Linked DNA regions of Homo sapiens: regions 2 and 3 are each linked to region 1. Evidence: fine-mapped expression QTL. A gene starts in region 1. Each other region holds a variant in brackets. All regions are shown on one strand. Distances are between the middles of the regions.

Region 1 (8,174 bases):
GCAAACAGGCTCCACACTGTCCACTCCCATCCACCAGGTGAGTAGCCCCTAGGGTGAGAACGCCCCTCCCCACCTTAGGAGTAAGGACGGGATCCAGCCAGCTGCAGCAAACCCACCCACAAATGGGAGACTACACAAACACTCCACTTCCTGCCTGAGAGGGTCTACAACCAAACGGCACGCATGACTGTGGTGAAGCTGCGGTGTGCACCTGTGTCACCAACCAGGGGCTCCTCGGACGGGGGGAGGGGGGGCTCAAAGACCAGAGGAGGAGGAGGTGGGGGTGCTCAAAGATCAGAACAGGAAGTGGCTGAAGACAGGGACTAGAGCCGGATACAGAGCAGGTCATCTGTGAGGTTCAGCTTTCCCTTAGAGAGGATTACTAACCACTAAAGTTGGGCCAAGCATCTATTGCCACCATGTCCCGTTAGGCAATGCCAGATGGCACTGCATCAGGGGCCACACGTGTGTGTTCTGGGCCCACATGGGTGACCCACCCGTCCCCCATCACGGCTTGCTGGGGCTATGGGATCTCAGCAGCTCCAGGGACTGAAGTACTTACTCCACGAGGCCACACAGGGTACAGGCCACGGAGCCGCAGCCCCAGCAGGTGCGCACACACTGCCCGCACAGGGCTCGCTCACACTGACCGCAGACCGCCTTCCCATCCACGGCTCGCACGCATGAGGAACAGGCAATGGACGCTACCCCAGATGGGTCTGTGAGGAAGAAACGCCAAGCCGTCAGGCTGCAAGGAGACTGGAGTTTCCGGGACTGCCGGGCTACCTGCCTCCATGCATACCTGAGGGCAGAGGGCTCTGACCTGCCTACCCCATCCCCACCTACACTGGATCCTTCTGACAACCCGTGAGCCTGGTACAGTGCACAGGACCCCCGTTTTACTACAGAGATCCAAGGTGAGATATGCCTGTAGTTGACTCCAAGTTCAGTGCTCTTTCCCTTACCAGGTCCCTCTGCTACCTGGAGGCTAGTGCTGGAAGGACCATTCTTCCCCTGTTGCTTGTCAGAACTCCATGTGTCCCATCTGGGTCTCAGTGTGGCCCACTGCCTTACTGGTTAACAAAGAGGTGCCTGGGCTCCTCCTAGACACACCAACCAGACTTGAGGTAGAGTCGGGGATTGCATTTCTAACCAGCAACACAGGTGATGCTCTGAGACCCCACACTGCATAGGGATGGGACTGGCATGTTTCCAGCCTTGTGGGACTATCTGAGGGGGCTGCAGGCGGAAAGCAGACGGGATACCCGGGGAGTCTCTGCTGCTTTTTTGGCCCAGTACTTAGAAGCTGTTTAACAACTTCCAGTCTTGAATGTGAGACCTCCTGATAACAGGAGCCTTCTGAGCCAGAAGGCCAAGCTCTGGGTCAGAGTCCTGCTTACCCAGGGAGGAAAAGCCTGACCTTGCAAATCAAGAAAAATGCTCGTGCCACCACCTGCCCTCAGTGCCACAGCCACAAAGGGCTGCTGGTGCCACTCACCAGCTTCGGAGGCCTGCCCAAGGCTCCTGATCAGGCGGCCGTCTGGTCCAATCAGCATCTGCCCACGTGCAGCCCTCGGGGCCCCTGTAGGGCCAGGCTTTGGGGACTCTGGCAGGTGAACGACGGCACAGCCTTCATCCCACACGTGGTCCAGGTAGGCCTGGGCCCCGAGGAACAGGAGTCGCTTGGTCTTCTCTGGGGGAAGATAAATCATTCTCACGTCCTTCACTGTGTACCAACGAAGCCCCTGCATGGCCATTGAGTCTTTCTAGCCTCACATGAACCCCATCGTCCTCCTGTGTGCCCTCTGTCTCCCAGTAACCCCAGCCTGTGTTGTGCCCTGGCGAGCTGGGTCCTGCTCTGCCTCTATGCTGAGAATGCTTGTGCGTCCTTTCCTTACCTGGCTTAGCTGTCATCTCCTCCAGGAAGGCTCTGGCCCTGCAGCCCCACCTGTGTCTGATGCAAGGGTTCCCTCTCCTATCACTCGGCTCATTTTCTGCAATTCACGGCTGGCCTCGCCTCACTAAGCTTGTCCCCTTTCTCCCTTTTCTGCTTCCCCAGCACTCCCCACCTGGAAACCAGGCTCTGTGGAATGCACAGAGGGAGCTCTGCACTGTGGAGCACTAATTCACAAAACTCGTCCCCTGCCAAGGAAGCAGCCAGAGGCTTGGAGCTGGGCCTACAGCCTCTGGCCAGAGCACACCCCCTTCACCTGCTACAGAGTTGCTGGCAAGACAAGCATCCCAGAACCTTCCAGACCTCTTGTTCTAGAACACCCACCCATCCCTGGGAGCAGTGGTTTTCCATCAGGCCACAGTTCAGTCACCTGGGGAGCTTTGAAAAATCAGATGCCCAGGGCCAGACCCAGAAATGCTTTGTTTTTTGTTTTGCACCTCACCATAACACAGTAAAGGCAGAGATCCCAGAAACTCTATGTGGCTCTACATGAAGTGGGCAGCAATAATAGTGACAGGGTAACTCACATGGAGTAGCTGATGCCAGCCCACAACACCCTGCACCTTCCTCCTGGCCCCCCACACCTTCCCCCATCTATAAGGGGAAAGGAATGGGACAGACACGTGGTGAGGCTAATCCTTGTCCTCAAGGCCTTGTGGACAATTCGAGGTTAAGAGATCAGGGTAACAGCTGTGGCCTGGAATTTGGAAACTGTCACACAGTTCAAAGTAGGTGTCCTGCATTTACCATGGAAGGCCCACTGCACCCAGCAGACCTCCCTGACCTGACCCGGTGAGTGGCACACACCTGCCAACGCCCAGGTCAGGACACTCGGGAAGAATAAAGGGCCATACTGAGCCAGGCCCCATTTCCATCTTCCTCTTCTTGCCTGCACAGTGTTTGAATTTTTCAACTGTCCTGAGAGGGCACACGATTGCGGTCCTGCCACAGTTCCCACGGCATCATTCCCCTTACCTCCCCATGGCCCAGAATAGCACTCGCTTTCACAGCCCTAGCACACTGGAGACACCGCACAGAGGAACCTCGGGAGGCAGAGTCTTTCCCTCATTCCCAAGGCACAAGCGGCACCAGGTAAATCACACACCCCGGGTCATCCTCTAACTGCTCTACAGGTGCAGACTTTGTGTCCCAATCACTAGGCAAGGTAAGCTCCACTTTTTACCTGCCCCAGGGTATTAATCACCCCAGTCAGAGTGATGATCAATAAGATCAACACGCCTGAAATCCACAGGAGAAAGCCAGAGAAGGCCTGGGAGCTCACTGCCCTCACATCCCACCCAGAACTGGACACTGCAGCCACACGGAGTCCTATTTCGCTCTCCTGCTGCCTGGCTTCTGCCTCGCCCTCTTCCTTCCCTTCCTCTGCCTGGCTAACTCCTACTCGCCCCCACAGGATTCCGCTCAGACTGTTCTTCCAAGAAGCCTTCCGTGCCATCCCTGCAGGTGCGCCTGCACAAACCTGTGCCTGCCCCGACCACCTGTGGCGACTCCTCCTGCTGGTCTCCCCAACTAGGCTGGGGAGCTCCCGGGAGACGGGGCACATCTGTCTTGCCTGCCTTTGGTCTCCCGAGAAAGCCGCCGTGCCTGGCAGGGCCGCGCGCTCCATGAATACCTCTTGGGACAGGAGGGGCACTCTTCGGGTTGACTCCATGCAGGACGCCCCGCTCCCCAACCTCTCCCAGGACATCCTGCACGGGACAGTCCTGAGAAAGCACCAGGCGGGTGCCGCTCACTGCAGGGCGGCGACTAACCGGGATCGTGGAAGAGGGCGCGGGGGCTAGGGGCAGGGACCCTTTTCTTTCAGGCTGTTGGACAGGGTGGGCGAACGCTGGGGTCCTCACATCCCCCTCACTGACCCCAGCCCTGGGCGTGGCCAGCTTGTGTCCCCGCGGCCTCCCAGCTTCCGGGAACGCGGGGCCAGAAAGCAGGGCCCTCCAGCCCCCCGCTCAGGCCTCAGAGGGGACGCTGAGGCCCGGCCCGTTCCAGGCCCCGACGCAGCGGACCCTCGGCAGCCCGCCCGACACTCACCGAAGACCTCCTGCGAGTAGCGCTCGGCGCACACGCCGCGGCTCAACTCCCTCTGGCTCACGCGGACCTTGAGCTGTAGCGGGGCCACGTCCGCGAAGGGGCAGCTCCGCTTGGGCATGGCCGCGGGGCCGGGAGCTACGCAGCTCCCCGGCCGCCAGCCCCTTACCAACGACGCCGTGACGTCACAGCTGCGCGCCCATCCGCGGGCGAGAGCGGGTTTGAGGAGAGGGAGCGACGCGGCGCGTCATAGGCTGCGGGCGAAGTGGGAGGCGGGACTCCTGCGCGGAGCGGCGCGGGATAGGCCGAGGGAGAGATCGGGGGTGGGACTCGTGCGTCGGTGTACTGGACTCGACGCCGCGGGAAAGGCCAGGGGCCAGGTTGAGGATCAGGGTGGGCGGGTCCGTGGGAGAGATTTGTGCGCGCGCCGCTCAGGATAGGCGGGAGGAGAGACTAGGGGCGGGGTTCCTATGCGGCGCGAAGCGACGAAGGGTGGGAGCCAGGTCGCGGCATTCGGCTGCGCGGGAAGAGCCAGGGGGCGGGGGCGAGGCCGAGGGTCAGGACGGTGCAACGAGGGCGGAGCTTGTGCATCGGGGGCGGGCCTCGTTTGAGGATCGGCGTGGGATAGGCCAGGGCGACGTCGGGGCGGGTCTAGTTTGAGGAGCGGCGCGGGATAGGCCAGGGCAAAGTCTGGGGCGGCTGGGTCGGTGGCGGGATTCCTGTCAGCTTTTGTTTGGTTCCTAAACGGTAGACACTGGTTATAGTTCCTCATTTACTTCTCCGAAGTTAAGAGGCAGCCCGCTTCTTCCTAGCTCTTTTTTCCCCTTTAGAGACAGGGTCTCGCTCTGTCACCCAGACTGAGTGCAGTGGCAGTCTCGGCTCACTGTAGCTTGCGCCTCCCGGGCTCAGGCGATCCTCCCTTCTCGGCCTCCCCGGTAGCTGGGACCGCAGGCGCGCGCCTCCGCGCCCCGCTTTTTGGTTTTGGGTAGGAACGGGGGTTTTTCTGTGTTGCCTCAGCTGGCTTAGCTCCTCACTGTGGCGGTCTCCGCCTTCCAGAAGTAAAGGCGTGTGGGGGCTGCGCTCTGAGGGCCGCGTGCGGCTGCCGAGCGCCCCCGGGCGGGGGTATGCGCCGCTGTGTGGAAAATGTTCTTGCACAGCGGGTTCGTCTGACTTGGTGTCCCCATGCCGCGAGGTGCACCCGCGTCGTCCCTTCTCCGGGGTTCTGCTCACCAGAGGCGGCTCTCCCCTGCCCCGGCGGGTACAGAACCGACCCGTCCTGTGGCGTGGGCTTCGCCCTGTGAGAGATGACAGCGTGCTGGCAGCCCTCGCTCGCTCTCGGCGCCCACTCTGGCCGCGCTCGAGGGGCCCTTCAGCCCGCCGCTGCACTGTGGGAGCCCCTCTCTGGGCTGGCCGCGGCCGGAGCCGGCTCCCTCAGCTTGCAGGGAGGTGTGGAGGGAGAGGTGCGGGCGGGAACCCGGGCTGCACGTGGCGCTTGCGGGTCAGCGTGAGTTCCGGGTGGGCGTGGGCTCGGCGGGCCCCGCAATCGGAGCCACCGGCCCCAGGCAGTGAGGAGCTTAGCACCCGGGCCAGCAGCTGCGGAGGATGCGCCGGGTCCCCCACCAGTGCCGGCCCGCCGGCGCTGCGCTCGAATTCTCACCGGGCCTCAGCTGCCTCCCCGCGAGGCAGGGCTCAGGACCTGCAGCCCGCCATGCCTGAGTCTCCCCCCTGCCGTGGGCTCTTGCGCGGCCCCCTGCTCCGCGGCACCCGGTCCCATCGACCGCCCAAGGGCTGAGGAGTGCGGGCGCACGGCGCGGGACTGGCGGGCAGCTCCACCTGCAGCCCCGGTGTGGGATCCACTAGGTGAAGCCAGCTGGGCTCCTGAGTCTAGCGGCGACTTGGAGAACCTTTATGTCAAGCTAAGGGATTGTAAATACACCAATCAGCACTGTGTTTAGCTCAAGGTTTGTAAACTCACCAATCGGTACCCTGTGTCTAGCTCAAGGTTTGTAGATGCACCCATGGGCACTCTGTATCCAGCTAATCTGGTGGGGATTTGGAGAACCTTTATGTCTAGCTGTGGGATTGTGGACGCACCAGTCAGCACTCTGTGTTTAGCTCAAGGTTTGTAAATGTACCAATCAGCACTCTGTATCTAGCTAATCTGGTGGGGACTTGGAGAACCTTTATGTCTAGCTAAGGGACTGTAAATACACCAATCAGCACTCTGTGTCTAGCTCAAGGTTTGTAAAGACACCAATCAGCACCCTGTATCTAGCTCAAGGTTTGTAAATGCACCAATCAGTGCTCTGTGGGGACTTGGAGAACTTCTGTGTCTAGCTCAGGGATTGTAAACACACCAATCAGCGCCCTGTCAAGACGGACCAATCAGCTTTCTGTAAAACAGACCAGCCCTCTGTAAAATGGACCAATCAGCAGGATATGGGTGGGGCCAGATAAGGGAATAAAAGCAGGCCGCCCGAGCAGGCAGTGGGAACGTGTTGGTGTTCTGCCACATGTTTGGGGCTTTGCTCTTTCACTCTTTGGGTCCACACTTTTTATGAGCTGTAACACTCACTGGGAAGGTGTGTAGCTTCACTTCTGAGGCCAGCAAAGCCACAAACCCACCGGGAGGAATGAACAGCTCCAGACACACTGCCTTAAGAGCTGTAACACTCCTTGTGAAGGTCTGCAGCTCCACTCCTGAAGCCAGCAAGACCGTGAGTCTGCCAGAAGGAACAAACTCCAAACACGTCCAAACATCAGAAGGAACAAACTGCAGACATAACAATTTTAAGAACTGTAACAGTCAACTGTGAGGACCTAGTGCTTCATTCTTAAAGTCAGTGAGATCAAGAACCCACCAATTCTGGACACACCTGGACTATGTTCTCACGACTCCATCGGTGTTGCCTCCGGTGTGAAGAGGTGATGCCTGGAGTCCCGCAAACCCCTCCCACGTGACTCCCGTGTTGCAGCTGCCCACGCCCCCTCAGAGGCAGTGTATGCTTTCCTAGCCATGGGTGGCTGAAACCTTACCAGTCTCCAGCTTAGATGTCCTTTCTCCTCCTGCCGTGCAGGGTTCCCTGTGGTGGGGATGGGATCAAGCATTCTTGGCTCTTCCTTGCCACTTTGCTGGCATAATGGAGAATTTTTTCTGCCTTAGGGAAATGACTTGAAAGTTACTCAGTTGGAGTCACGTGTGACTAAACACAGATTTGGTTTATCCCAGAAATAGATGAAGTTCTCAGAGAGGAGGATTGTTTTCAATCTTATGGATCGTGGGGATTTCTAAAGATTTCCCTGTGTTCAGACTTGCAACTCTCCTAGGGTCTCATCACCATCGTGGACAGATACAGAACATCGGGCAGCTTATGGAGTGGGGCTGTCCCCCAGGCCACATGCCGGTTCCTCAGAGGTTGCTGGGTAGGATTCTGCTGCTTTAACAAACTTGCCTGGCTAACACCACTGGCTCACCCTTGAATGCCTTCCTGGGTGAAGCCATGAACCCTCCAGGGTTAAGCCCCAATTTTGGGGCTCACCTGCCCTGCATCAGATTGATGGTTAACTTGTAAAGAAACTGGCAGCTTTCCAGAGTGCTAGGAAAAAGGAAAATTATCATTAAACAAAATCATTGTCATAGTTTTCCTCTAATTCGTCTTGAGGTCTCTCCTGGAGAGTGGCTGTAAACTTTGGCCCTTCCCTGATGGGGCTCTGGGGGCGGTGGGCATGGGGTTACAGTGTGTGCTCTCGTGGGATGCCTCCTGACCCTGGCTGATGGCCTCAGGCCTGTGTATCCAGCTGTGCTGGCATTCCTCTCACCAGCAGCTTGCTTCTAGGCTTTGGCAGGCAGCCTGTGGCTTTTGTCTGAGCAGTGATCAGTTCATTCCTATCATGATGGTCTCTCTGGGAGAGTCCTGACCAGGAGAGTGAGGTTTGGGTGCAAGGGTCAGGTGAGAGCTGGAGGAGGCAGCACAGCAGAACACATGAAACTGCAGAGCAGGTGTGTGACTCAACCGGGCGGGAGCGAGGAGGCAGCGTTCCTCACAGGCCAGTGGGGAGGGGGAGCCACGGGGAACAGGCAGGCCCAGCCAGATGGTGGGGAGCGAGCCAGCGGCCTGTGCACCAAATCTGTATTCAGGTCCAGGGTGTTGTTACTCAAGTGCATTTCCTGTGG
Region 2 (8,174 bases), 310 kb after region 1:
TGACTCTGGGGTGGGTGGGGCCCTCTGGGGCACCCCCTCGTTAAAAGTTAGTGCTGAGGCAGAGTCTTAAGTCGGAGCAGGCAGGGCTCCCCTGCAGGCAGGCAAATCACAGCCTCAGCCCAGTGATTAGGCACCACCTCTGTGGAAGGGTCCCAGAGCTGCCTGTGATCCCTCACCCTGCAGTCTGAGTAATTCCTGAATGACAACCATCCACACTCCCTCACCCGTGCGGATACTGCCGGAAGAGCCCTTGCCAGGCCCCTACAGCTGGGTCTTCCCAAATCCACCTTCCACGGCTAGTTCCATCCTGTCCTGGGGTCAGTGGGGGAAGGGCAGGCCAGGCTCTCATCCCTCACCATGGCTGCTCCCCGTCATTCACTCATTTGCTCTTTCATTCCCTCATCCCACTGCTGTTTTCAGATGCTTCTGGAGCACAGAGCTGGCCATGTGGTTGGCTGGGAGCGGCAGATAAACCCATGCAAGTTTTATGGAGGAGAAAACAGAAGTTCTGAGAGATCACTTGCCCAAAGCCACATGGTTGGAAGGCTTGTGTTCATCCCTGCTCCCAAGACTCGCCTGACTCCACAGCATTCCATAGCCCTGGCCTGAAACTCTGGTCGCCTCGTGCCCGGTGTAAGGGTGGGGGCACTCCCAGGAGGGCTCGGAGGAGGCTTGGCTGGCCGTGTTCTGGGCCCTGCGTGATCCCAGGTTCTCCGACGGACCCCGGGGTGGCCGGGAGAAGCCGTATGTGCTGTGGACAGAGGTGTCTGCCCCCCAGCCCTGCCCAGGCCCAGGTCCTGCTCCTGTGCCTCGTGAGGGGGTGTTGCTGCCCAGTGCAGGCCTCACCTAGCAGTTCCTGGGCACTGGCTGAGGTCTGCTCCTGCTCCAAGTCCGGGGTCTCAGCCAGGCCCAGCCGGTGAGGGAGGCTGTGTGGCCTCGTGGGGTCGGGGCGGGTAGCTTCGAAGTGGTCAGCTGCTGCCTGCTGTGGCGGCTGGGGCTGGAGTCCTGCTCCTGGCTTTCCAGGATGCACAGGCTGGGCTTGGAGGAGCAAGAGGAGGCGGATGGAGGGCGGAAAGGAGCCCAGGGCCATGGCTCCCAACTCCTCTGAAAAGCCCGTGAGCTCGATAGCATCCACTTTGCATTTTATCAAATCGCCATTTCTCACAGAAGAATCTGTCAGCCACCAAAATTGCTGGCTGAAAGGAGCAGGAATGAAAAGATTCACCTTGAGGACATTCCTCTTTGTCAGGAGCAGAAAAGATTCCATTTGCCAGCCGGGAGAGGATTCCGGGTTCATTGATAGCAGCGTGCTGAGCTTCACGGGGAAGGGCTTCAGCAAATGGTCCTGCTTTTTCATGTGAAGCAAATTGTGGATAATGCGCCCTGCATTCTGTAATTACGAACATGAATAAAAGGGCCTTGGGCATTCACCGCGGAGTGGAAGCCTGTGTACCACCCAGGCATCCAGCAGACGGTGGGCCACGTGGTGTGGCCACTGCTGTCCTGCTGTCCTCCTGGCCTACCATCCTGCTGGCTGTTCCTCTCCAGCTGAGGCATCCTGGTGCCAGTGAGCCCTGAGCCCTCCGTCTCCAGCTGCTGCCCCATGCCCAGTGCCTGCCTGCTCAGCTCCCAACTCACCCGTGTCCTTCCTGTCTCTGCCCCAGCGAGGTTTGCTAAACCATGTCCATCCTCCAGCCCCTTGGAGCACCCTCCCCCAGGAAGCCTCCCTGACCCACCATCCACTGGGCTGTCTCCCATGCTGTCTGGAGCCTCACTTGTGCCCGTTGTCCAGGGCCTCCACCCCCGGCAGGGGTCCAGCTCCGTCTCCCTCTGTGCAGGCACCAGGTGACTCTGGGACTCAGCCCCTCCATCAATAAGGTGGACACCACCTTTGTGTTGCAGCTGGAAGGAAGGACAGGGCCCGGAATAGGGAATGGGCAGGGGTAGGGGAGCTAGGGACTCTGGCTCAGCCCCACCATGGATTTGTGGGTGTTGTGGGTGAATCTCTTCCAATCTCAATGCCTCAGTTTCCCCATCTGTCACTGAAGCCTTGTATAATCAGAAAGGGATGGGTTGGTGGTACAAATCCCAGAAAACACTACTCGAAACCCCACCATTCAGTTCCCACGTCTGTGGCATTAGTGTCCTAGGCTGCCGTACCCAGGTGTAGGCACACCTTGTTTTATTCCTCTTCACTTTATTGCACGTTGCAGATACTGTACTTTTTTTTTAACAAATTGAGGGTTTGTGGCAGCCCTGTGTTGAACAAGTCAATCAGAGCTGTTGTTCTAACAGCACGTTGCTCATGTCACATCTCTGTGTCACACTTTGGTAATTCTCACAACATCGCACGCTTTTGCATCATTACTGTATGTTATGGTGATCTGTGGTCAGTGATCTTCGATGTTACTAGTGTAACTGGGGAAACCATGAACCATGCCACATCTCTCACTTTAAATCAAAAGCTAGAAGTGATTCACCTCTGTGAGGAAGGCAGGTGGAGACCCCATGCAGGCCGAAAGCTGGGAGCTGGGCATCTGGTGCCGGTTGGCCAAGTTGTGAATGCCAAGGAAAAGTTCTATAAGGAAATTTTAAAAATTTTAAAAATGCTGATGTGGAGACAGCTCGAGTGGTCTGGATAGATCCAAGCAGCCATCACACTCCCCTTAAGCCAAAGCCTCACCCCCAGCGAGGCCCTGATTCTCAGTTCTGTGAAGGCTGACAGGGATGAGGAAGCTGCAGAAGAAAAGCTGGAAGCTGGCAGAGGTCGGTTCGTGAGGCTTAATGTGTGTCCCCAGAACATGAAAGTGCAGGGTGAAGCGGCAAGTGCTGACGGAGAAGCTGCAGCGAGTTATCCAGAAGATCCAGCTTGGATCATCGACGAAGGTGGCTACACTAAACAACAGATTTTCAACGTGGAAGACACAGCCTTCCATTGGAAGAAGATGCCATCTAGGACTTTCATAGCTAGAGAGGAGAAGTCGATGCCTGGCCTCAAAGCTTCAAAGGACAGGCTGCCTCTCTTGTTAGGAGTGAAGGCAGCTGGTGACTTTAAGTTGAAGCCAGTGCTGATTTACCATTCCTGAAATCCTAGGGCCCTTAAGAATTACGCAAAGTCGACTGTCTGTGTTCTGAAAATGGAACAACAAAGCCTGGATGACAGCACATCTGTTTACAGCACGATTGGCTGAATATTTTAAGCTCACCGTTGATACCTACTGCTCAGAAAAAAAAAAGGTTCCTTTCAAAATATGACTGCTCATTGACATGACCTGGTCACCCAAGAGCTCTGCTGGAGACTCGCAGGAGACGAACGTTGTTTTCATGGCTGCTCACACGACATCCATCAGGCCGCCCACGCATCAGGGAGTCATTTCAACTTTCAAGTCTTACTATTTAAGAAATACATGTTGTAAGGCTGTAACTGCCATAGACAGTGATTTCTCTGATGGATCTAGGCAAAGTCAATGGAAAATCTTCAGAAAGGATTCTCCATTCTAGAAGCCGTGAAGAATGGGAGGAGGTTGAGATATCAACATTGACAGGAATTTAGAAGAAATGGATTCCAACTCGCATGGATGACTTTGAGGGTTCAAGACTTCAGGGAAGCAGGAACTGCACATGTGGTGGAAATAGCAAGAGAACTAGAATTAGAAGTGGAGCCTGAGGATGTGACTGAATTGCTGCAGTCTCATGAAGAAACTCGAATGGATGAAGAGTTGCTTTTTACGGATGAGAAAAGAAAGTGAACACTGTTGAAATGACAACAAAGGATTTAGAATATTCCATCAAAACTTAGTTGATGGAGCAGTGGCAAGGATTGGGAAAATTGACTCCACTGCTGAAAGAAGAACTACTGTGGATAAAATGCTGTCAACAGAATCGCACGCTACAGCAAAATCTTTCAGGAAAGGAAAAGTCTATTGATGAGGCCAGCTTCACTGTTGTCCTAAGAAATTGCCACAGCCACCCCAGCCTTCAGCACCCACCACCTCCATCAGACAGCAGCCATCAACATGGAGGCAAGACCCTCACCAGCAAAAGATGATTCACTGAAGGCACAGATGGTCGTTAGCATTGTTTGGCAATGAAGTGTATTTTAATTAAGGTAAGTACATTGTTTTTTAGACGATGCTATTGCACACTGAATAGACTACAGTACAGTGAAAATGTCACTTTTATATGTACCGGGAAACCAAAAAATTCATGTGACTCACCGTATTGTAAAACTCACTTTATTGCAGTGGTCTGGAATGGAACCCACAATATCTCTGAGATTTGCCTGTACCAGATCGTGGGTGGCTTAAACAACAGAGATTTTTTCCCGCAATGTTTTGAAGGCAGAAAGTCCAGGATCCAGGCATTGACAGGGCTGGGTCCTTCCGGGGCTGTGAGGGAGAACTTGTTCCACAGCTCTTGCCTCGTTTCTGGAGGTTGCTGGCCGTCTCTGGGGTCCACGGCTTGTGGAAACATCACCCCGACCCTTGCTCTCACCCCCTCGGTGTTTGCCCTGTGCACGTGTTTGTATCCAAATTCCTTCTTTTTATAAGGACAACTGTCATGTCCGATGAGGGGCCTGCCCTGCTGCAGGGTGGCCTCATTTTTCTAATCACATCTGCAGTGACCCTATTTCTAAATAAGATCACGTTCTGTGTACTGGGGATTCGGGCTTCGACATCCAAACTCCACCTGTAGCATCTGGAGCTGGTGGCTTGGGCTGCTCAGCCTCTGTGCTGGCGTGTACCCCCGACACAGGCCACAGGGACACCTCCTCCCTGCAACCCCTTTGCCATGGGATGGCCCATGCCAGGGGGACGGCTACTTGACTTGGGGGACGCAAACAAGGTGGGGGCTGGTCTGAGGCCAGAGTCTGCATCTGGGTGCCCCACCAAGGCTGTGTTCACACCTCTGAGAGCTGACCCACAAACTCACCTGGGACCCGGGGGCCTGCAGCCCTCAGGACCTGCCCCTGCCCTCCCCTCCCCTCTTTCTTTCCTTTGCTTTGCTTTCTTAGAGGATACAGAATGGATGTGGCTGGTGGGACACTCACAAGGGGCTTTTAGACACTGCCTAGTAAAAGAGCTTGGCGCTTGAGG[G/C]GGCTTGGCCAAGTCTTCATCCCCCACCTGCGGGGCATCCAACTGCCCTGGATCCCCTGCGTCCCTTCACTGTGACCTTGGGCCTGGAGGGAGCAGACAGGCAGGCCTCACCTCCTGCGCTGTGTGCAAATTAAGTGCTGTGATGCCAGTGGAGCTGGCCCCCGGGGCTGGCCTGGGTGGTCAGGCCCCCCTTCCTTCCTCCTTCCCTGCCTCCCTCCCTCCTGCCCTTGGAAGAACAGCCTGGGCTCTCACCCACCAGGGAAGACTTCTTTCTGTCTCTCTCTTTCTCTCTGCTGTGGTCTGGGGGCTTCCAGGGGTGGTCTCCTCACTGTGTGCTTAGCGTCTCCTCCCTGCCCACTCCCAGGCACTTTCTGTTGTGTTCCCATGGGGTGGGGCGGGGTGAGGGCACGGATGTGGCATGTGGCCTTCCCAGTGAGCGCTGAATAATTAACAGCCAGGTAATGAAAGGCTCACTGGGTATTGATTGTGCCCTGGGGCCAGTGTGGGGAGGACTCATGTGTCCCAGCCCAGTGTCACCACCCACAGGCAGGCGGGAGGGCACCAGCTCAGAGGAACCTGAAGCCAGTGAAGGGCCCACAGCTGCCCACTGAGCAGCTGGCCAGGGCCCAGGAACTCCCCCTCTGCGATACCTGCCCCAGGAGTGCCCTGTCAGAGGGGAGAGGCCCAGGAGAGTGGGCGCTTACAGGAGATCCCCCTGCCTGACAGTCCTGGAAGGCTTCCAGGGCAGGTGGGGCTGGGCCTCCTGCAGCTGGGTGGGGCCGGCAGAGGTGGGCAGTGTGCTTTCAGGGCCCTGCAGCAGCTGGAGCCACCGCCTCATCCAGAGCCCCGCTGCTCAGAGCAGGGCTGCCTTCCCTCCATAATTAATTCATTGGGCCTCTGGCCCCTGTCTGGCTGCATCTCCACAAGGGAAGAAAGAGACCAGCCACCTCCCTCTCTGAGAGCAGCTTACACAGCAAGGCCCGTCAGGCTGAGCCACAACCTGGGACCCTCACCCTGCCCCCGTGCTGTGCTGGCCTGGCCCTTGGGTTCACCCACTGCTGGCTGCCTAACACCCTGTCCTCCAGGGGCTGGAGTCCAGCCCCTTTCTGGGAGCCCCCATTCCAGCCCCACAGGCAGTGTAGTAGCCAGTGCAGAGTCCGCACACGGCAGTCACCTGCCTCTCCCCTGGCCCTGGCTGGGTGACTCCCTGGGGTGTGGGGTGAGGACCATACGGCTCCTGTACCAGGGGCAGCCCCAAACTCCTTGCCTGGTGCTTCACCAGCCCCCAGCGTCTCCAGGTCTGATTGACTCATTATCTGCTCCATCGCCCTCCTTCCCACACCTAAGCTCTGACCCTGGGTAGGGGTCCAGCCTTGCCGTGTCTGAGGCCAGTGGAGACGGGCCTGGCACTGCCCAGCAGAGCACGCACGGCCATGCTGGAGCTCACCCCACAGGACGGAGAATGACACCAGCGCAGCTGCAGTAAGGACCAGGGGGTGCCCGGGAGGCTGGAGGCTAAGTAGGGCCCCTTGGTCCTGTGGTGGGAATGGGAACAGGGCCCTGGTGGGAGGGAAGTCCTGGGACAGAGCTTGGCCAGCCAGACACAGGCATGCAGTGGGAGGAGCTTGTGTCAGCAGTTCCTGGGGGAAGCTTACGGTCAGCCCCCGGCACGTCTCCTGGCATGGCCGCGGAGAAAACAGGCCACTGCGGGGAGGCAGCCGCCGGGCTAGGGGCTTGGCAGAGTGACCAGGCCCAGCTGTACACCCTTGCTGCCGTCCTGCTTCTCCATAACATCCTGTGTGGTTTCCTGCCCTGGCAGTCCTGGAGCCTTCACCCCGACTGCCCCAGGCCTGCCTCCCTCAGCTCCGCCCATCTGCAGGAGGCTCAGCTCCACCTCCCCCTGGAAGCCCGCCAGGACTACCGGGCCAGGCCAGAGGGCTTCCTGCGAGCGCCCACTCTCCTGGGCTTCCTCCCTCCTAGTGGGCGCTCCCCAGTGGACACGGATTCACTGTGCGTCCCTGGACACCTCTGGAATGTCAGCTGTCCCAGCGCATTGTCCCGATTTGTGGGATGGACTGCAGGGTTGTTGGGAGGAATAGAACAGGGCCCACCACAGCCTGGGACCATCTGCACCAGCTGGGATCATAGCTTGGGGCAGATTTTCCTAGTTCTGGCAAGACTTGCTTGAGCATAGAGAGGTCAAGGAGGCCGCATGTCTTGGGGGTAGAGTGCAAAGGGCAGGGGCTGACCCTTCCCAGTTAGCGGGGGTCCTGGGGAGGAGTAGATGCTGGGCCATCGTTCCGTGGAAACAGGACTTTAGGGGAGCCAGGGCCGTGGGCCTACCCTCCCTTCTCACTGCTGGTGACCAGGCTCGGCTTGAGGATGGGCGTGGACACGCTGGCTGCAAGGGCGCCATGTCTGGCGCCTACCTTGGGCCTGCTCTGCTCTCCTATGACTGCCAGTGGCCCCAGCACAGGTGATGGAGGGAGTGGGACAGGGTCCTTCCCCAGCACCTGCCCTCAGGGTGGCTGGACTGCCTGATGACAGCCTGTACTGACCCTGTGGTGCTGGCAACCCCACAGGAGCCCTAGGCCCTGGCCAGCCAGGCCTTCTTGGGGCACGACGGGGCCAGGGCTGGCTCCAGGGAGCCACTCGGCTGTGGGGCGTGGGCCTCATTTTAGGGTTTCTCCTCCTCCCACTCCAAGGCACTGTGCCCACTAGTCACCCCTTGCTGGGCCTCCGGGGGTCACAGTGAGGCTGGGCCAGGTCCCCTGCCTGGAGCCCACCTCCCTGAGCACCCCGACTGCCCCACAGGAACCATGGTGGGACTTGCTTGCTGGTAGCCATCAAGTCAGCCCTGCGAAGTCTGATGTTTGGAAATGCCGCTCACAGGCCACCTGCCTGCTCTTGGAGGCCCCGTTACCAGGAAGGCCTTTCCCATTCTGCAGGTCTGGGCATGTCGTGAGTGGGCCAGCACTCACACTGCCTCACAGTGAAGGGCACACAGCTGGGGACCCTGGAGTCCTCTGCTCCGGGAGGGGGTCCAAGCCCCTGAGACTCACCCTTTTCCGGGTAGTT
Region 3 (8,174 bases), 210 kb before region 1:
TTCATTTTCATGAGTGATGGGATGGAAGGGTCCAGGTTTATTGGTTTCCCAGTAAATACCCAGCTGTTCCAGGACCATTCGGTGAAAAGACTTTGCTTTCTGTTGGAATAACTGGGCTGCTTTGACAAGAATTTGGCCGGGCATGGTGGCTCACGCCTGTACTTTGGGAGGCCAAGGCAGGTGGATCACTTGAGGCCAGGAGTTCAAGACCAGCCTGGGCAACATGGTGAAACCCCATCTCTACTAAAAGTACCAAAAAAAAAAAAAATTAGTGAGGCATGATGGCGCATGCCTGTAATCCCAGCTACTTGGGAGGATGAGGCACCAGAAACGCTTGAACCCAGGAGGCAGAAGTTGCTGTGAGCTGAGATTGTGCCACTGCATTCCAGCCTGAGCGACAGAGTGAGACCCTGTCTCAAAACAAAACCAACCAACCAACAAACAAGAATGAATTGGCCATGTAAGTGTGGGGCTGTTCTGGACTTTGTTTTCTGTTCACTGATTTGTGTTTCTGCCGCACTGTCTTGATTCCACTGGGGGTCAGAGAAGAGAACTCGGATGACTGAAGTTATTTTAAATTCGTCAAGACAGGTTTCTGAGCCAGCATGGGGCCTGTCTCAGTGACTGTCCCCTGTGCACCTGAGAGCAGCATGCACCGGCTGCTGTCAGGAGTGTTCTCCCAGTGCCAGTTTGGTCTCGTTGGTTGATGGGTACTTCAAGTGTTTTGTATCTTCCCCTATTCTACTTTGTAAGGTTATCATTTCCTAAGAGTGTTAGAATCTCCTATTGTATAATAATTGTGGATTTATTTCTCCTTTCAGTTTTGCCAGTTTTTACTGCAGTGTTTCAAAAAGGAGATCTAGGTGTTTTTTGGTTTGTTTGTTTTTTGAGACAGGGTCTTGCTTTGCTGCCCCGGCTGGAGTGCAGTGGCATGAGCTTGGCTCACTGCAGCTTTAACCTCCTGGGCTCAAGTGATCCTCCCACCTCAGCCTCCCGAGTAGCTGGGAATACAGATGTGCGCCACCATGCATGGCTAATTTTTAAATATTTTCTAAAGATGAGGTCTCACTGTGTTGCCCAGGCTAGTCTCAAACTCCTGGCCTCAAGTGTTCCTCCTGCCTCGGTCTCCTAAAGTGCTGGGATTACGGCACAAGCCACTGTGCCCAGCCTAGCATTCCATTTTGGTTCCACTATTGGCTTATTACCTATACATCTTTTTATTTTTTTAATGGTTGCATTATGCTTTATACCCTGAATATTTAACTTATTACAGTATAATTTCAAGTAAGATTGTCCTACTTTAAGTATAATGTAAGATCTTCACAACAGCAACTTTTTTTTTTTTTTTAAGATGGGGTCTCGCTGTCACCCAGGCTGGAGTGCAGTGACGCGATCTCGGCTCACTGCAGGCTCCGCCCCCCGGGGTTCACGCCATTCTCCTGCCTCAGCCTCCCGAGTAGCTGGGACTACAGGCGCCCGCCACCTCGCCCGGCTATTTTTTTGTATTTTTAGTAGAGACGGGGTTTCACTGTGTTAGCCAGGATGGTTTTGATCTCCTGACCTCGTGATCCGCCCGCCTCGGCCTCCCAAAGTGCTGGGATTACAGGCGTGAGCCACCGTGCCCGGCCCACAACAGCAACTTTTGCACTCCATCCCCATCCTGTCATATGCTTTACTTCTATATTTGTAAAATTCTAAGATACATTTTATTTTATTTGTTTTTTTTTTTGGAGACAGAGTCTTGGTCTGTTACCAAGGCTGGAGTGCAGTGGAACAATCTCAGCTCACTGCAACCTCCACCTCCTGGGTTCAAGTGATTCTCCTGCCTCTGCTTCTTGAGTAGCTGGGATTACAGACGTGCACCACCCTGCCCAGCTAATGTTTGTATTTTTAGTAGAGAGGGGTTTCACCATGTTGGCCAGGCTGGTCTCAAACTCCTGGCCTCAAGTGATCTGCCCTCCTTGGCCTCCCAAAGTGCTGGGATTACAGGTGTGAGCCACCGTGCTGACTTATTTTTGTTTTATACAGTTAATTACCTTTTTCTTTTACAGTTTCATTGAGGTACAGTTTATAAACCATAGAACTCACCCATTGTAAATGTACAATTCAATCATTTTACTAACCTTATAGAGTTGTGCAAACATTACCACAATCCAGTTCTGGAAGACCTCCATCACCTTCCAAATTTTCTCAACCCCATTTACAATCAATCTCCCTTCCCACTCCCAGCCCCAGGCAATGCCAGCTTAATTCTGGTAAATTATAGAAACTTTGGTCCAGGGTACACTTGTGCCTCAGCATCCATGAGGGATTGCTTCTAGGACCTCCCTCAGATACCAAAATTCATGGATGCTCAAGTCCCTTCTATAAAGCAATGTAGTATTTGCAAATAACCTACATACATCTTCCCTCCCCTATACTTTAAATCATCTCTAGATTACTTATAATACCTAATGCAATGTAAATGCTATGTAAATAGCTGGTATACTATATTGTTTAGGGAATAATGACAAGAAAAAAAGTCTACACGTGTTCAGTACAGGTGCAATTTTTGGGAGAACATTTTTGACCCAAGTTTCATTGAACTCAGGATACAGAAACCACTGATATGAGAGGCTGACTGTATACCCTCTCCTCCTACTCCTTTTTGCTATTATTGTCACGTATATACTGTATCTATATATGTTATAATCCTAACAATATGGTGTTAGAATTGTTGCCTTATATAAGTGGTTCACAGATGATTGTCTGTCTTCTAAATCCAGCCTCCTTTTTGTTTTACAAGTAAAGTTTTGTTGAAACAGTTTTGCTCATTTATTTACATATTATCTATAATCTATAGCTGCTTTTGTACTATGGCTGCAGAGTTGCAACAGAGATCATGTGGCCTGGTAAGCTTAAAATATCCACTATATTGCCTTTTTCAAGAAAAGTTTGTCAATCCTTGCTTTATACAATCCTCTGTTTTTGAAAGAAGTTAAGAAATAAAATGAGGACAATATATATTCATAGAGTCTTTTATATTTGCCTGCATAGTTACCATTTTCTGCATTCTCCATTTCTTCCTGTGCATTTGACTTAGTGTCTGGTATTAGTTCCTTTCAGTCCGAAGGACTTCTTTAGTATATCTTGTAAGGCAGATTTGCTAGCAATGACATTTCCAAGTCTTTGTTCATTTGGGAATGCCTTTATTTTTCCTTTTTTTAAAATTTAAATTTTTATTTTTTTGAGACAGAGTCTTGCTCTGCCTGACTAGAGTGAAGTGGTGCAATCACAGCTCACTGCAGCCTCAACCTCTCAGGCTTAAGCTATCCTCCCGCCTCAGCCTCCTGAGCAGCTGGGACTATAGGCATGCACCACCATGCCCCGCTAATTTTTAAAAAAATTTTTGGGCCGGACACGGCAGCTCATGCCTGTAATCCCAGCACTTTGGGAGGCTGAGGCAGGCGGATCACGAGGTCAAGAGTTCAAGACCAGCCTGGCCGACATGGTGAAACCCGTCTCTCCTAAACGTACGAAAATTAGCTGGGCATGGTAGCGCGTGTCTGTAGTCCCAGCTACTCGGGAGGCTGAGGCAGAAGAATCACTTGAACCTGGGAGGCGGAGGTTGCAGTGAACCAAGATCGTGCCACTGCACTTCATCCTGGGTGACAGAGTGAGACTCCGTCTCAAAAAAAAAATTTTTTTTTGTAGAGATGAGATCTTACTATATTGCTCAGGCTGGCCTTGAGTTTCTGGGCTCAAGCAATCCTCGCACTTCAGCCTCCCAAAGTGCTGGGATTACAGGCATAAGCCAGCATGCCCAGACTATTTTGCCTTTATTTTTGGAAGGATAGGTTGCTTGATATCAAATTCTTCGTTGACAACAGTTTCTTTCAGCCCTTTGAATATATTGTTCCACTTTCTCGTAGCTTCTATGGTTTTGATGTGATTCAGGTGTTAGTTGTATTTTTGTGCCCTTATTATGTGATGGGGCCCTTTCTCTTAAGCATTTTGACTGTGACGTTTCTAGGTGTGGATCTCTGTGTTTCTCCTGCTTAGGTCTGGTCGCGCTTCTTGGATTCTGCAGATTGTTTTCAGCTATCACTTCTTCAACTCTCTCTTCTGCCTCTTTATCTTATGGTTAATGCTCTGAGACTCTGTTTTTCTTCAAACAATCTTCCCCCTGACCCCGTTCTTCAAATTGGTTAATTTATATTAATCTACAAGTTGATAATTCTTCTGGTATCTCAAATCTGTTGGTGAACCCCAGTAGTAAATTTTCAACTCCAGAATTTTTGCTTGCTTTTAAAAAATAAGTTTTATTTCTTTATGAGATTCTCTCTTCATTGAGCCATTGTTAACATATTTTCCATTAATTTTTTAAACATGATTTGTTTTTGTGTTTTGAACAAACTTTTTTTTTTCTTTTTGAG[A/G]CGGAGTTTCACTCTTGTTGCCCAGGCTGGAGTACAATGGCACAATCTCGGCTCACCACAACCTCCGCCTCCCAGGTTCAAGTGATTCTCCTACCTCAGCCTCCTGAGTAGCTGGGATTACAGGCATGTGCCACCATGCCTGGCTAATTTTGTATTTTTAGTAGAGATGGGGTTTCTCCATGTTGGTGAGGCTGGTCTCGAACTCCCAACCTCAGGTGATCCACCCGCCTCAGCCTCCCAAAGTCCTGGGATTACAGGCATGAGCCACCGTGCCCGGCCTGAACAAACTTTTAATAGTTTCTTTGAAGTCTGTATTAAACCCAGCATTAGTAGACATTTAGAGACACTTTCCATTCACTGCTTTGTTTCTCAGTATGGACCATACATTCTTGTTTCTTCGCGTAACTTGTAATTTTTTGGTGGCTGCTGGACATTTTAGATAATATATTCTGGCAGCTCTGGATTCTGATCCTCCCAGGGTGTGGTTATACAATAACAAACGCCTTGTGTTTGTTTAGTCACTTTCTTGGACTAAATCTGTTCCAACTTGGAATAAGTCCAGTCTCAATTCACTGCTACCTGACGTGATGCCTCAGCCTCTCCAGCCCATTGGCTATAGATCTTCCCCCAGCCCCTGAGTTTGCTCTCCGATCCAGTGTCCAGGAAAGGACTATGACACCTCCACAGTGTACATACAGTCCTGGCTCCCTCCCCCGGGCCCCGATCTGCTCCCCCAGCCTGCTTGTCTCCACTGACAGCCACTCTCTCTGCAGTGTCCGGCCGTCAGCTGCAGCCCGGGGAGCCAGGTGCAGAAACGGAAGATGACCACTCTGTAAGTGAGAGCAGGAGGAAGTGTGTCCTCCTCATACCCTGCCCCCATTCTCCCTGGGCCCTGGGAGAACCGAGTGGCAAAAATAACTGGATTCTCTCCCGTCAGGTGACTGAAGGGCCTGCGGATGAGGGCATTCGACCACGGCCGCAGGGGTCTTCACCTGTCTACGAATACACGACTGAGGCTGCCGACTTTGGACTCCAGGTGAGCCTGCTGGGCAGAGCCCCACAGGCACCCAGGTCTCCTCCTGCATCGCCCTGTGTGGGCAACTCACGCATGTCTGTTCAACCTTGCTGCCCTGCCCCGCTGCCCACTGGGCAGTGCCCACTCAGATGTCCTCTCAGACTCCTCTGTGCCCTTGGGTCCCTCCCTGTGGCCGGCCAGGGCACAGTGGGATGGAGGTGCCCTGCAGCTCTTGTGAGCATGCGTATGGGCTGATGGGGACAGGCCTCATGTTACTGTGTTTGTGTTTCAGGGGCACAGGGTGTGTGCATCCCTGCACCTGTGTAACACACTCATGCTGTCTTTGGGGACAGGGCCCCATGGCTACCTCTGGAGACAAGGACTCGGGGAAGGGATCAGAGGAGGCATGTCTATGAAAGGATTCATTTTTGTACAATTTGAATTTCTTATCTCCCTCCATACAAAACTCCAGTTGCTGTGGGGCTTCCCTATGGGCGCTGTGGGCTGTAGGGTGGGTGCTGTGGGCTGTAGGCTGGGCCCTGTCGGGAAGCAGGAAGGCCGAGAGTTGCCTTTTCTCTGTGGATGTGCCTGGAGGAACTCGGCTGCCTCTGCACACAGCTGTGTGTTGGAAGTTCTGGGCCCCTCTGAAGGGAGGGCTCCTGGTCTGGCACCAGCCTACCTGTGCCCCTCCCTGTCCCTGAGCTGGGGCAGGTGCCTAACTCCCAACACTTGTGGCTGCAGGAAGACGCCCCCGGCAGGCAAGGTTCTGCTGGGAGACGGAGATCCTGGTGGAAGCGAGATTCAGGGGACTCACGGACATTTTTCAGGATGAGTCGTCCAGAGGTGGGTACAGCAGGAGCTGAGGGTCACAGAGGTGTGTCGGTCCTCAAGGGATCCAGCCAGAGAGTCCGAGGTCAGAGCAGGCAGGGGAGGAGCAAAGAGGCTGGCAGTGTGCCCCGTGCCCTGGGGAGGAGGGGTGTTCTTGTCCCCCTTGTCAGGCCTGGGGAAGGGCAGGGGCTCCAGAAGGCTACATCTGGTCCTGGCCCTCTCCACCCCTCCCTGGGGTGGAGTCTGATGCATAGCCAAGCTCCTGGCCAGGTAGACCTGGCTGTACAGACCTCGATTTTCTCCTCCGTGCAATGGGGCAGTGCTGGTGTCTGTTGCATATTCAAGCTGTGGGGCTGAAAAGGCCAGTCAGCACCCAGGCCATGGAACTATGGAAGGTGCTAGACTCTGCTAGCACCCAATGATGAGGGCACTCTGCCTCTTAAGCAACTAGTTTTTTTCCTTGGAGGCCCCAGCAGTCCAAGAGCTCTGCAGGACACAGGCCCCATCCTGTCCCAGGTCTCGCAGGCTGCACCCAATGTCCCGTATTTTCCTTGGCATTGCTGTGCTTCCTTGTCTTGAGCATCAGGTGCCTTGCACACAACTGGTGCTTCACGCGTTTGTGAAGAATGCATGAAGGAGCTGAAAAAGAGAAACTGGCCACAGGGAAAGCAGAATCCGTTCTGCGCTGCTCCTGGTGCCCTGCTGGGCCTGGTGGCATGGACAGGCTGTGCCTAAGTCCTGGCAGGTTGGGGTGGGGACAAGAGTTCTGGCAGGTTCCAGCTGGCTTCCTCCAGAGCTCAGAGACAGCTACCTGAGCCCACCTGGTGGGTACCCTACTCTGCTCTGTGTTGTCTGGGCTGATGGAAAGGATGGTGGGGTGCCCATCCTCTGGAGACACAGGCCCCAGCAGGGATGCTTATGGTGGGACTGGCACATGCTCACCATGGCCCTGATGTGCTTCTGCTCCAGGCTGTCCAGGAGGCAACAGAGGTGACGCTGAAGACAGAGGTGGAGGCAGGAGCCAGTGGCTACAGTGTCACAGGTGGTGGGGACCAGGGGATCTTCGTCAAGCAAGTGCTGAAGGACTCCTCAGCCGCCAAGCTTTTTAACTTGAGAGAAGGTGCCATGGCAGTTCCATCCCTGGGGTCACCATTCTCCCCACCAGGATGGGAGGGACCTGGAGGGGGGTATTGAGGGGTAAGAACCACACCTGGAGCTTAGGATGACCTCCTCACGCCTCTGCTCAACAGCTTGAGGCTGGGATCACCCACTGCATCTAGTAAAATGGGGGACCCCATCCACCTTGCCTGTGCCTGAGGCACTCAGTGGGGGACTGGTGGGGCAGACTCAGTGGGATTCCCCCTATTCATGTCCCCGGGACCCTCCTCGCCAGCCAAGGCAAGACAGCAGACCCCGTCTCATTCACACACCCGGCCCTGGGGCTGCTCTTTCTTGGTCTAGGGGATCAGCTGCTCAGTACAACCGTGTTCTTTGAAAACATAAAATATGAAGATGCTCTCAAAATCCTTCAATATTCAGAGCCGTACAAGGTTCAGTTCAAAATCAGACGGCAGCTCCCTGCCCCACAGGATGAAGAGTGGGCTTCCAGCGATGCCCAGCACGGCCCACAGGGCAAGGAGAAGGAGGTGAGACCACTATGCCCGGGGGGCAGGGCCCCAGCTGGCTTCACTACCCTGCTGGCTGAGCCTGGGAGGGGATAGCACTCCCACTCCATCTGTCCCTGGGCCAGGGCCCCAGGCTTCTTGGACTGGCACCAACAGATTCCCTCTCCCTATGTTTCAGGACACGGATGTTGCTGATGGGTGCAGAGAGACCCCCACGAAAACTCTGGAAGGAGATGGGGACCAAGAGAGACTCATCTCCAAACCAAGGGTGGGGAGAGGCAGGCAGAGCCA

Evidence for each region. PIP is the estimated chance that this variant, and not a neighbour inherited with it, causes the effect.
Region 2: its variant is fine-mapped to the expression of SIVA1 in tibial nerve (GTEx, PIP above 0.99).
Region 3: its variant is fine-mapped to the expression of SIVA1 in monocytes after LPS (Quach 2016, PIP 0.91).

What each region holds. Positions count from the first base shown.
Region 1 is chr14:104,749,149-104,757,322 of GRCh38, reverse strand. SIVA1 (SIVA1 apoptosis inducing factor) reads right to left here and starts at 4,176. Exons shown (of 4, transcript NM_006427.4): 1 at 4,004-4,176; 2 at 1,499-1,693; 3 at 563-719. The coding sequence starts at 4,121. LOC107987209 (a long non-coding RNA gene) reads left to right here. Exons shown (of 3, transcript XR_001750915.3): 2 at 1-917. RefSeq lists enhancers at 4,081-4,150, 4,161-4,210, 3,856-4,357, 5,061-5,150 and a silencer at 4,311-4,680.
Region 2 is chr14:104,434,984-104,443,157 of GRCh38, reverse strand. No RefSeq gene overlaps it. Among named protein-coding and RNA genes, the nearest start is that of C14orf180, 140 kb to the left of the region's middle. RefSeq lists enhancers at 1,347-2,129, 7,305-8,170. The variant G/C (reference allele first, on the strand shown) is at 5,097.
Region 3 is chr14:104,954,687-104,962,860 of GRCh38, reverse strand. It overlaps AHNAK2 (AHNAK nucleoprotein 2), which reads left to right. Exons shown (of 7, transcript NM_138420.4): 2 at 5,189-5,247; 3 at 5,353-5,451; 4 at 6,172-6,273; 5 at 7,228-7,378; 6 at 7,720-7,904; 7 at 8,062-8,174. Among named protein-coding and RNA genes, the nearest start is that of AHNAK2, 20 kb to the left of the region's middle. RefSeq lists a cis regulatory region at 5,748 and an enhancer at 5,664-5,833. The variant A/G (reference allele first, on the strand shown) is at 4,416.